Linked DNA regions of Homo sapiens: region 1 is linked to region 2. The links come from fine-mapping of genetic effects on gene expression. A gene starts in region 2. The other region holds a variant in brackets. All regions are shown on one strand. Distances are between the middles of the regions. Region 1 has its middle 100 kb from the start of CBSLR. Region 2 holds the start of IVNS1ABP (influenza virus NS1A binding protein).

Region 1 (4,393 bases), 100 kb before region 2:
GATCAAAACTTCAAGACCAGCCTGGTCAATGTAGATGGACCTGATCTCTACCAAAAATAAAAAAATTAGCTGGGCATGGTGGTGCGTGCTTGTGGTCCCAGCTATCTGGGAGGCTGAGGCAGGAGAACTCCTTGAGCCCAGGAGGTTGAGGTTGCAGTGAGCCATGATCACACCAGTGCACTCCAGCCTGGGCAACAGAGCGAGACTCTGTCTCAAAAAATAAAAAATAAAAATCATAAAATAAAATAAAGTAATAGCTTTCGTTGCAAGTTTACATTAATTAGTGCTAATTTAAAGCTGTCCTTTTAACTCATTCTTCAGCAAAAGTGAAATGTAGATGGACCCTTCTTTTTCACCTCCTTTTTAAAATTACAACTGATTGCTTATTAACATTGCATTTTCATTATCCCTACAGCATCACAATCCCTCAGGAAGGTAATGAATAATTTAAAATTCATGTTTAATTTATTATACATGCTTATGGCAACTATTTTCATGGGCTGATCCTTGTTAAAGTTCTCAGGGGCCTTGAGGCACAGGTGGCTCCATTAAAAATGTATTTCTGTTTTCTGGAGGGATTCTGTTTTAAAGTGCTGGAATGAGCATGTTTATAGTTAATTGACAGTAGATTAGATGCTACCCTGTTCACTATACCCGGAAAAAAAGAAAACAACATTGCTTTTTTTCTGCCCCAAAATGAGTTATGTGTCAATACTTTTTGTTTCCTTCTTTAGGGATTGTAATTAACACATATAACATAAGACAACATGACTGCTTCATTGATTTTTTTGGGAAATGGTTAAAGGGAGAGTTACAGAGGAAAATTGAGAGCAGGGGAGAGGAGGAGAAAATGTATGCTTCTGAGTAGAACCTTAGGAAGTTAGCATAGCTGGAGACAGCAAAGAGGCCAGGAGCTTTCTTGGCATTGTCCAGATGCTCTGAATGGAATAATGAAGATGGAGAGCACTTTGGTCTGGTCGTGACCTCCACTCTGGGGCCAAGATGCATCCTCAGTCAGGTATCAGCCACTTGCCTGCAACAGAACTGAAGCCGGAACACAGCATGTGTTTCTCCTGAACCTAGTTCCATAGTCTACCAAATGGTTTATGTTTCATTATCACTTAGCTTAAGTTTGCGGTCTCCTCATACCTAAACTGGGCCCCCTTATAAGCTTTCTATTTATTGAGTAAATAGTTATTTATTTTGTAGAGATGTGAAAACCCTGACTACAAAAAAGGATGTCAGTTCCAATTAACATGGTGTGTGAGGCATTGGTTGTATGTGGATTATTGTATATTAATTTTTTTAAAGAATGTACCTATGGTTAAAAGTCTTCCTTACTTGATGTTTTTGTGCCATCAAAACTATGAGAGGTGTAAACAGCCTTGGAAAAGGCTTTTTCCCCAGGTGAGGGACTTAGGGAAGCTCTACACTACTACAATAGAGTTTTCACTTTACTTGCCAGACAGGTGGACCAGACTTAGGATTGGCTCTAGAATTGTCTATAAAATAATTGTGATTATTCCCCAAAACATATCAAATTACTTCCATTAAGTTAATATGAACAATGGCCCAGGATTGAGAACAAAAACTTAAGTGATCTATTCATGAATATTCCCTGGGGTGAAAAATCATGTATATTTTTACTGAGACCTTATTTAATGCAGAGTATTAAAAGCAGCTCTTGAGAGCAACAATGTTGATTTCATTTATCGTTATATCTCTAATACCTGGCATAGGGCATATAACACAGTGGGAGATTTCAAAATATTTGTTAAATAGGGAAAAGGTGCATGCTTAAAACTAAGCACATTCCAACATCCTAATTCATCTTATATAATATATTCAATTAGATAATAAATGTATTTTTTTCTTTAACACATCAACACTGCAACTTGCTGTGAGGTTGGTCTTCTCTCAGTAGAGAGTAGCAATTAGCTTTGGAACAGACTTTTTTGTATACAGATCATAAGAACACTAAGGGAACAATAAGAACAAAAGGGGACATAGTCCTTAATCTTTTCAAATTCCTTGATGTAGAATTTCATTAGCCATTTTAAGAATAAGACCCAGGAATTCCAGCAGCAGTAACCCATTTTACAGATGAAAAAGGAAAATCCAAAGGTAATAATCACAGGTGACACTAACTGAGCACTTATATGTTCAATGCTTACAAATCCCTAAGTGTACTATCTATCCTCACAACCATTCCTGTGAAGTAGGTATAATTTTAGTCCCATGTTACATTGGAGAAAACCAAAGCTTAAAGAGGTTATGTGACTTGCCAAATGTTATGTGGCTTCATAGTGGTGAAGACAGGATTTGAACCAAGGTCTGTCTGGCTCCAGAGTTCAGGCACGTAACCACTGTCCTTTCCTGCCTCTGTGCTCTTCTGTCTTCTGAAAGTCCACAAAGGCATTGATAAAATCCATTCCTGGATATGGTATACTTTACTGAAACAGAGTCTTCCAAGATGTCAAAGCAAAAATTGTTTAAAAAATAAAAACAGGCGGGGTGCAGTGGCTCACACCTGTAATCCCAGCACTTTGGGAAGCCGAGGCAGGCAGATCACCTGAGATCAGGAGTTTGAGACCAGGCTGGCAACATGGTGAGACCCCGTCTCTACTAAAACTACAAAAAATTATCTAGGCATGGTGGTGCATGCCTGTAATCTCAGCTACATGAGAGGCTGAGGCAGGAGAATCACTTGAAC[C/T]CAGGAGGCAAAAGTTGCAGTTAGCCGAGATCGCACCACTGCACTCCAGCCTGGGCAACAGAGTGAGACTCCGTCTCAATAAATAATACAATACAATTACAATACAATACAATACAATACAATACAATACAATACAATACAATACAATACAATACAATACAATACAGTACAATACAGAAGATGAATTAAAAGGAACTCTGAGGCTGTGATCTGGGATCCACAATGAGCTTTGCTAACCCTTACTTCAAAGTCCTGGTCCCAAGTTTACAGTGTTTGGGCCTCTTAGGCTGCATACCCAGTTTCATTTCAAGCTGCTCATCAACAAGCCTCCTCTATTTAAATCAGGCTAGACTCTAAAATTCCTACTACAACTTTCATGTATTCCTACCTCTATTCCCTTCCAGAAGCTGTTCTCCCCATTGGAAATGCCCTATGTTGAGATAAATCTGGCCACGAATTCTTTAAAGCTCTTCCCATCAAAAGGCAGAATCTATTTCCCCACTCCCTGGGATCTGGGCTGATTTTGTGACTTGTTTTGAGCAATAGGATATGGCAGAAGCAATATCATATGACTACCAAGGTTTGGCTTCCAGAGGCCCTGTAGCTTCCACTTTCGCCTTCTTTGAATAATGCTGTCTGTGAACAAGTCCTTTGTTAAGGATGAGAGGTACCACATGGAGAAAGAGACCCAGCCATCCAGCCATTACAGGACTCTCTCCCCAGGTCCCAGGCGGACAGAGAGGCCATCTATGATGGACCAACCCATCAACAACTGCAAACAGATACAGAGTAGAAATGAGCCATCCTAGCTGTGCTCTGCCCAAATTGCCAAGCCAAAGAATGGTAACGAATAAATGACTGTGGTTTTAAGCCTTTAAGCTTTGGGGTGGTTTGTAAAGCAGCAGTAGGTCACTCACATGTCTTTTTATTCCTTCTTTTCTAATATGTCCACTTCCTACTTGCAAATTGAGCTCCAAAGTCACTTCTCCAAGAAATGTTCCTGGATGGAATCTTCCCCGACAAAGCCAGCCTCACTCAGGGCTAAGCAAATGGCCTTGTCTAAGTTAGTGATTCTAAGGGCACGGAGACCAGACTGTCTCCCTAAATACCTTCCCCATCCACTAGCTGATGCCTGGGATTTCATCATTACAGTTTAATGGCTTACATAAAAGCATAATTCCTATTAAATTTTAAGATTCCCTGGAAGGCATAGCAAGTTTGTGCTTTTGATTTTGCTCTTGTTATAAAAGCATACAGGAATAAAAAGTAACACTAACATAAGGTTACTTTCCCAAAGAGAAAAAAAATTTTTTAATAATGTGGACCAACTCAAATATAAGCCTTTAGGAAGATAGATGAAATAGTTATGTACCTAATTTCAATGTTTAATTTATTAATTTAATTAAGTATACATATTTAAAGTCACATTGTATAAAATAATTCAATTTAGAAATATTCTTCCACTTTTCCATCCCATGAAGGTGTCTGATTTAAAGTTGCCATCTGTGTGTCTAGTGACAAGTGTCTTCCATTTCATGAGACATGTTTTTAGGCATCTGATAGTTTTCCAGACATAATCTTCTCTTCCATCTAATTTGTTTTATTTTAAACCATGATGCTGCCATTGCAATTTTCATCCCAAGCCACAAGTACTATTTACAAAACACTAAAATAATTTTT
Region 2 (4,393 bases):
AGTGATGTAACATTTTTGGGCCATGGTTGACAAAATCTTGGAAAGTGAAACCAAGGATAAGGGGGACTGCTATATTAAGAGCAAAATCTTACAACATAATGTGTTACTTTAAGAGGTAGAAATTAACCATCAGGTTCCCTGAAAGGCATAAATGGAATGCATAAGTTATGCTATTATTCATAGAGAAGGTAATAAGTAAATTTGAAATTCCATACAAAGCAAAAATACAATGAGTGTGGGCACACTGTAGCTTTAAGAAAAGTGTTGACTGTTTCAGGTCACAAAGACACTATTTAGAGTATAGCAAGTGTGACCATGTGTCCAACAGGCCAGCAGTCATGTGTCTACGCAGAGTGGGCAATTCATACTCTCCCACTGGAAGGATGAAACCCATTGTATTAAAGAGCTTAAAAGTACGTACCCTGATAGTTTCATTTGTAAGAAAAGTAAACATTGCTGTCAGTTATTATCAGCAAGACAAAACAAGAGCACAGTGTCAAATGTCAGTCTTTTTCTCCTTAAGAAAGATATAAAAAATCACTCGAATAGACATCTTAGTTCTTGTTTCCTCCTACAATTAATTGTCCGGGGGCGGGGGGACGGGGTGCGGGCGGGGCGAGGGAGACATACAAGAAATCTGTGAGAAAAAAAGGGGCGGGGGAATAAGTCTCCTTGCCTCAAGATTTTAGAAAAAAAGTTGTAAACCTATTGCAGATGAAGGCTCCCACAATTTATTTTTCCTGCTTCTATAAGCATAAATAGTTAATGATAAAAATGGTAAGAGGCATTGACAAAGAGCTCCTAGAATGTCTACAAATTAAGGTGAGTGATCAAACACAAGGTTAGGCCTAGACAGCTTAAGTGTCCTCCACAAATCAGGATAAGCGTTAACAGGACATTAACCTGGAAGCCTTTACCAAACTCTAATTTGGATATAATTTTACCTCACTAAATCCCTCACCTTCAATCAAAACTCCTTTCCCACGTGCCCTTCAGAGTCCACGAAGTTGCTGCCAGATCCCAGCTTAAATCACGTTTCGCTTTCACAGATCTCCCTCCCGGGCAAGGTGGTGGGGTGGATAATGAAGTTTGGCACCTGGTATAAAGGGCCCCAGTAGGTTAGGATAGGAACTACCACTTCTCAGGTGTGTTTTCTTTTTCCGGAAGAGGGCAAGACCAGTAGAGAACTGACTCAGCGTCTCCGACACGAGGAGAGCTGCACGCAGACAAAACAGACCCGGGGGGTGAAAAGTGGAAGTAAACTGGTGTTTGTGGCACCACTGATTTACACCTTCTCTGACTTCTCCAATATTTTTTTCCCCAAGTGACTCAATCTTCTCACCCAAACCAGGCCAAATGAGGGGTTAGTTGTTCGACTTCTTCTCAGAGTGCCTCTCTTCTTCCTCACACTCTCCACGCCTCCTCTCCGCACCCGCCACTTCCCCCCCGACCCTTAAGTTAAGGGCTCATGCCCAACTAGATCCTAATGTCCACGACGAGCAGCTCCAGTCTAGGGGGGGTTGCCTAGAAGTAGGTCTGACGCCGAGCAATCTAATCTCCCACGTCTGATCTCTCAGGCTATTGTGCCTCGAGGGGAAGTCAGAACAGGTGAGGGCGGCTTGAGGGAACCAGTTCCGGGACAGGCAACGCACAGGGCGGCGAAAGTGAGGGTGCGGGGCAAGGAACGGAGGGAGGGACAAAGGCGCGATAAGAGGAACGAGGGCGCCCCCCGAGCGCCGCCTATCTCCTCAGGATCACCTTGCGCTGACCTAGTTACACCGAGAAGGAAGGAACCCCAGTAGACCAGGGAGGAAGGCGGGGCGGGATGTGGGCGGGGCCGCGGGTGGGGCGGGGCTTAGAGTGGGATCTTTATGGAGCTCGCCTGTGATTTGCAGATGGATTCGAGACGGAAGCGGGCTGGGAGGCGTCGGCGGCGGCAGCGCACGTGGTGACGTGCGAGGGGGTGCGGCGCGAGCGGTCGGCGGCGGCGGAGGCAGTGTCTCCCGGTCGCGCGTGGAGGTCGGTCGCTCAGAGCTGCTGGGCGCAGTTTCTCCGCCTGCTGCTTCGGCGCGGCTGTATCGGCGAGCGAGCGAGTTCCCGCGAGTTCTCGGTGGCGCTCCCCCTTCCTTTCAGTCTCCACGGACTGGCCCCTCGTCCTTCTACTTGACCGCTCCCGTCTTCCGCCGCCTTCTGGCGCTTTCCGTTGGGCCGATTCCCGCCCGCTTCCTCCTGCTTCCCATCGAAGCTCTAGAAATGAATGTTTCCATCTCTTCAGAGATGAACCAGGTAATACGCGCTGGTTCTACGAACGACAGATGAGGGAGACGGCGCGGCTAGAATCCGAGAAGAAGGGATGGCGCCGGCGGATGGGAAGAGGGTGGGAGGCGCGGAAGCGGTGTCCTCATCAGGGGAGGCAGCCCCAAGCGGCCGCCGCCGCCCTCTGGGACGTGAAGCCCGCGCCGCGCTGGGCCCGCGCTCCAGCGCTGCCATGGTTGCCAAGTTGCGTTGGCGGCCGAGAGCGGGCGCCGGTCGCCTCGGAGAGCGCGGAGGCTGGAGCCCCTTTGCTACACTGGCGCGGGTGAGGCAGGCTGGGAGGAACAAGAGTTTTTTGTTCGAAGGGTTTTGGGGGGCCTGGGTTAGGGCGCCGCGGGCGGGGATGACCCGCCGGAAGGAGGGCGCGGGACTCCCCGTTCTTGCTGTCAGGAACGGACGCCTCGCCTCGGGTTTGCCTGGGGTTTGGGATTCTCTTCTGGAAGAGCTCTCGAGACTCGGCTCGTGTGGGCGGGCAGCCAGCCCCGGGCCTGGAGTAGGGTGGCACGGAGTCCCCGATCGCCGTGGGCCGCGGGGTCCTTTGTTCCCGCTCCACGTTGCCCGCTTTTCTTGCCAAGCGCGGGGAGAAGGGGGCGGGAGGAGGGAGGGAGCGGCTGCCCTGACGTGTCGGTACTGAGTGACTGCGGGGCTGGCCAATCCGGGGCGGGGGTGTGCGGGTGCTGGGGGCCTCGCCTCGCAGCCTGCGGAGTGGGCGCCGGCCTGGCTGCGCGAGGAGGAAGGCCTGGGACGCTCTTTCTTTTTTATGAAAGAAATCAGTGGCAAGATTTGCTCTTTTTCCGTCCCTCCACGCTTTTGGTTAAGTGTCTCTGATTATAAGCTCTTGATGATAGGAAGGTATCAGGCTGAGGGTTGAACCTAGGGTAACTTGAACCACTACTTGAGAACTACATTTACTTTTTCCCCCAATAGGTAGTGGACATATCTATTGGTTTGAGACAGCTGACATTTCAAGGAGAAATCAGATGTCCAAAAGGGCGCATTTTTGTGATGGAGCGTGCAGTGATGGAGCGTTAGAACACCTTGGCATCAAGCTGTTCGTTGAGTGTGTCGTGGTCTTCTGTCTACTAATAGATGACAACTCTGGAAGCCTAGTACCACTCTTAACAGATGAATAAGTACAGCATGGACTAGACTGCCACAGGCCATGCTTTCTTTTAATAATTCTAGCACCAGTGATTGATTTAGGAAAAACAAAATACTGATGATTACTTTTAGGCTAAAGCCTGCTGACACTTCTGTCTTAAAGATACTGAAAGAGTAGTTGTATTTGTTAAGTCTGGACGTGAGGTAAACATGGACTTTAGAATTGAATTGAGACTAGTATCATTTAACGCCAGCTGGCAGGCTGCTTATCAAGCTTATAATTTGGTAGCCAGAGGTAAACGGAACTTGAGCCACTGACCAAAGAGAGCCCTGGAATGGTTTTCCTCTGTGTTTTCCTAATAGATGATATCTCTGGTTAACTAATAGATACTAATTTCTATAGCCATTGTCTTAATTTGTAGTTGATTTTCTAACTTTCCCCCCAAGACAAAACATTTCAGGTTTTAGTCTTAGTTTTAAATTAGTGTCTTTTTGGCTACTTGCTTTTGGAAGGTGGGATTTTTTCTTGCTTGAAGGATTTGTTAGATGGTAATTAAATGTAGTTTTGCAAATACGTTTTTAAATATAAATGTTTTCCTGTTAAGGAAGTATCTTAATTGATATTAAGATGAAGTAACACTAAGTAAGTCATTTCATCCACTTTTTAGCAGTGCGATTGTATAGTCAAATCCTGCAAGTAGGAATTATTAAAGGTTGGGGGTCTTCCCACCATGTCATGTGCATGTGCTAGTGTGTGTGTAGATTGAAGTATTGTGAGTAAGAGATTGATTTCTGGGTTTTTGTTAAAACAACAGAAAATACATACTTGTAAACTACAAGTTGTATATCTTGTAAATGTTTCTGAACCTATACTTAACATCATACTATTATATTTTTGTTATTAACATGCAGATACCTCAGCATTAGAACGTCTCAAACCAAATTCTTCCTTTCCTTCCTTCCCTTCTCCATGTAGCAA

The links. PIP is the estimated chance that this variant, and not a neighbour inherited with it, causes the effect. A credible set is the group of variants that fine-mapping cannot tell apart.
Region 1: its variant is the best candidate, but not a certain one, in a credible set for the expression of IVNS1ABP in monocytes after LPS (Kim-Hellmuth 2017, PIP 0.51).

The regions. Positions count from the first base shown.
Region 1 is chr1:185,414,805-185,419,197 of GRCh38, reverse strand. No RefSeq gene overlaps it. Among named protein-coding and RNA genes, the nearest start is that of CBSLR, 100 kb to the right of the region's middle. The variant C/T (reference allele first, on the strand shown) is at 2,714.
Region 2 is chr1:185,314,846-185,319,238 of GRCh38, reverse strand. IVNS1ABP (influenza virus NS1A binding protein) reads left to right here and starts at 1,996. Exons shown (of 15, transcript NM_006469.5): 1 at 1,996-2,286. It overlaps CBSLR (CBS mRNA stabilizing lncRNA), which reads right to left and starts at 1,787. Exons shown (of 4, transcript XR_007066771.1): 1 at 962-1,787. RefSeq lists enhancers at 978-1,057, 1,308-1,407, 2,057-2,670 and silencers at 1,738-2,047, 2,508-2,567.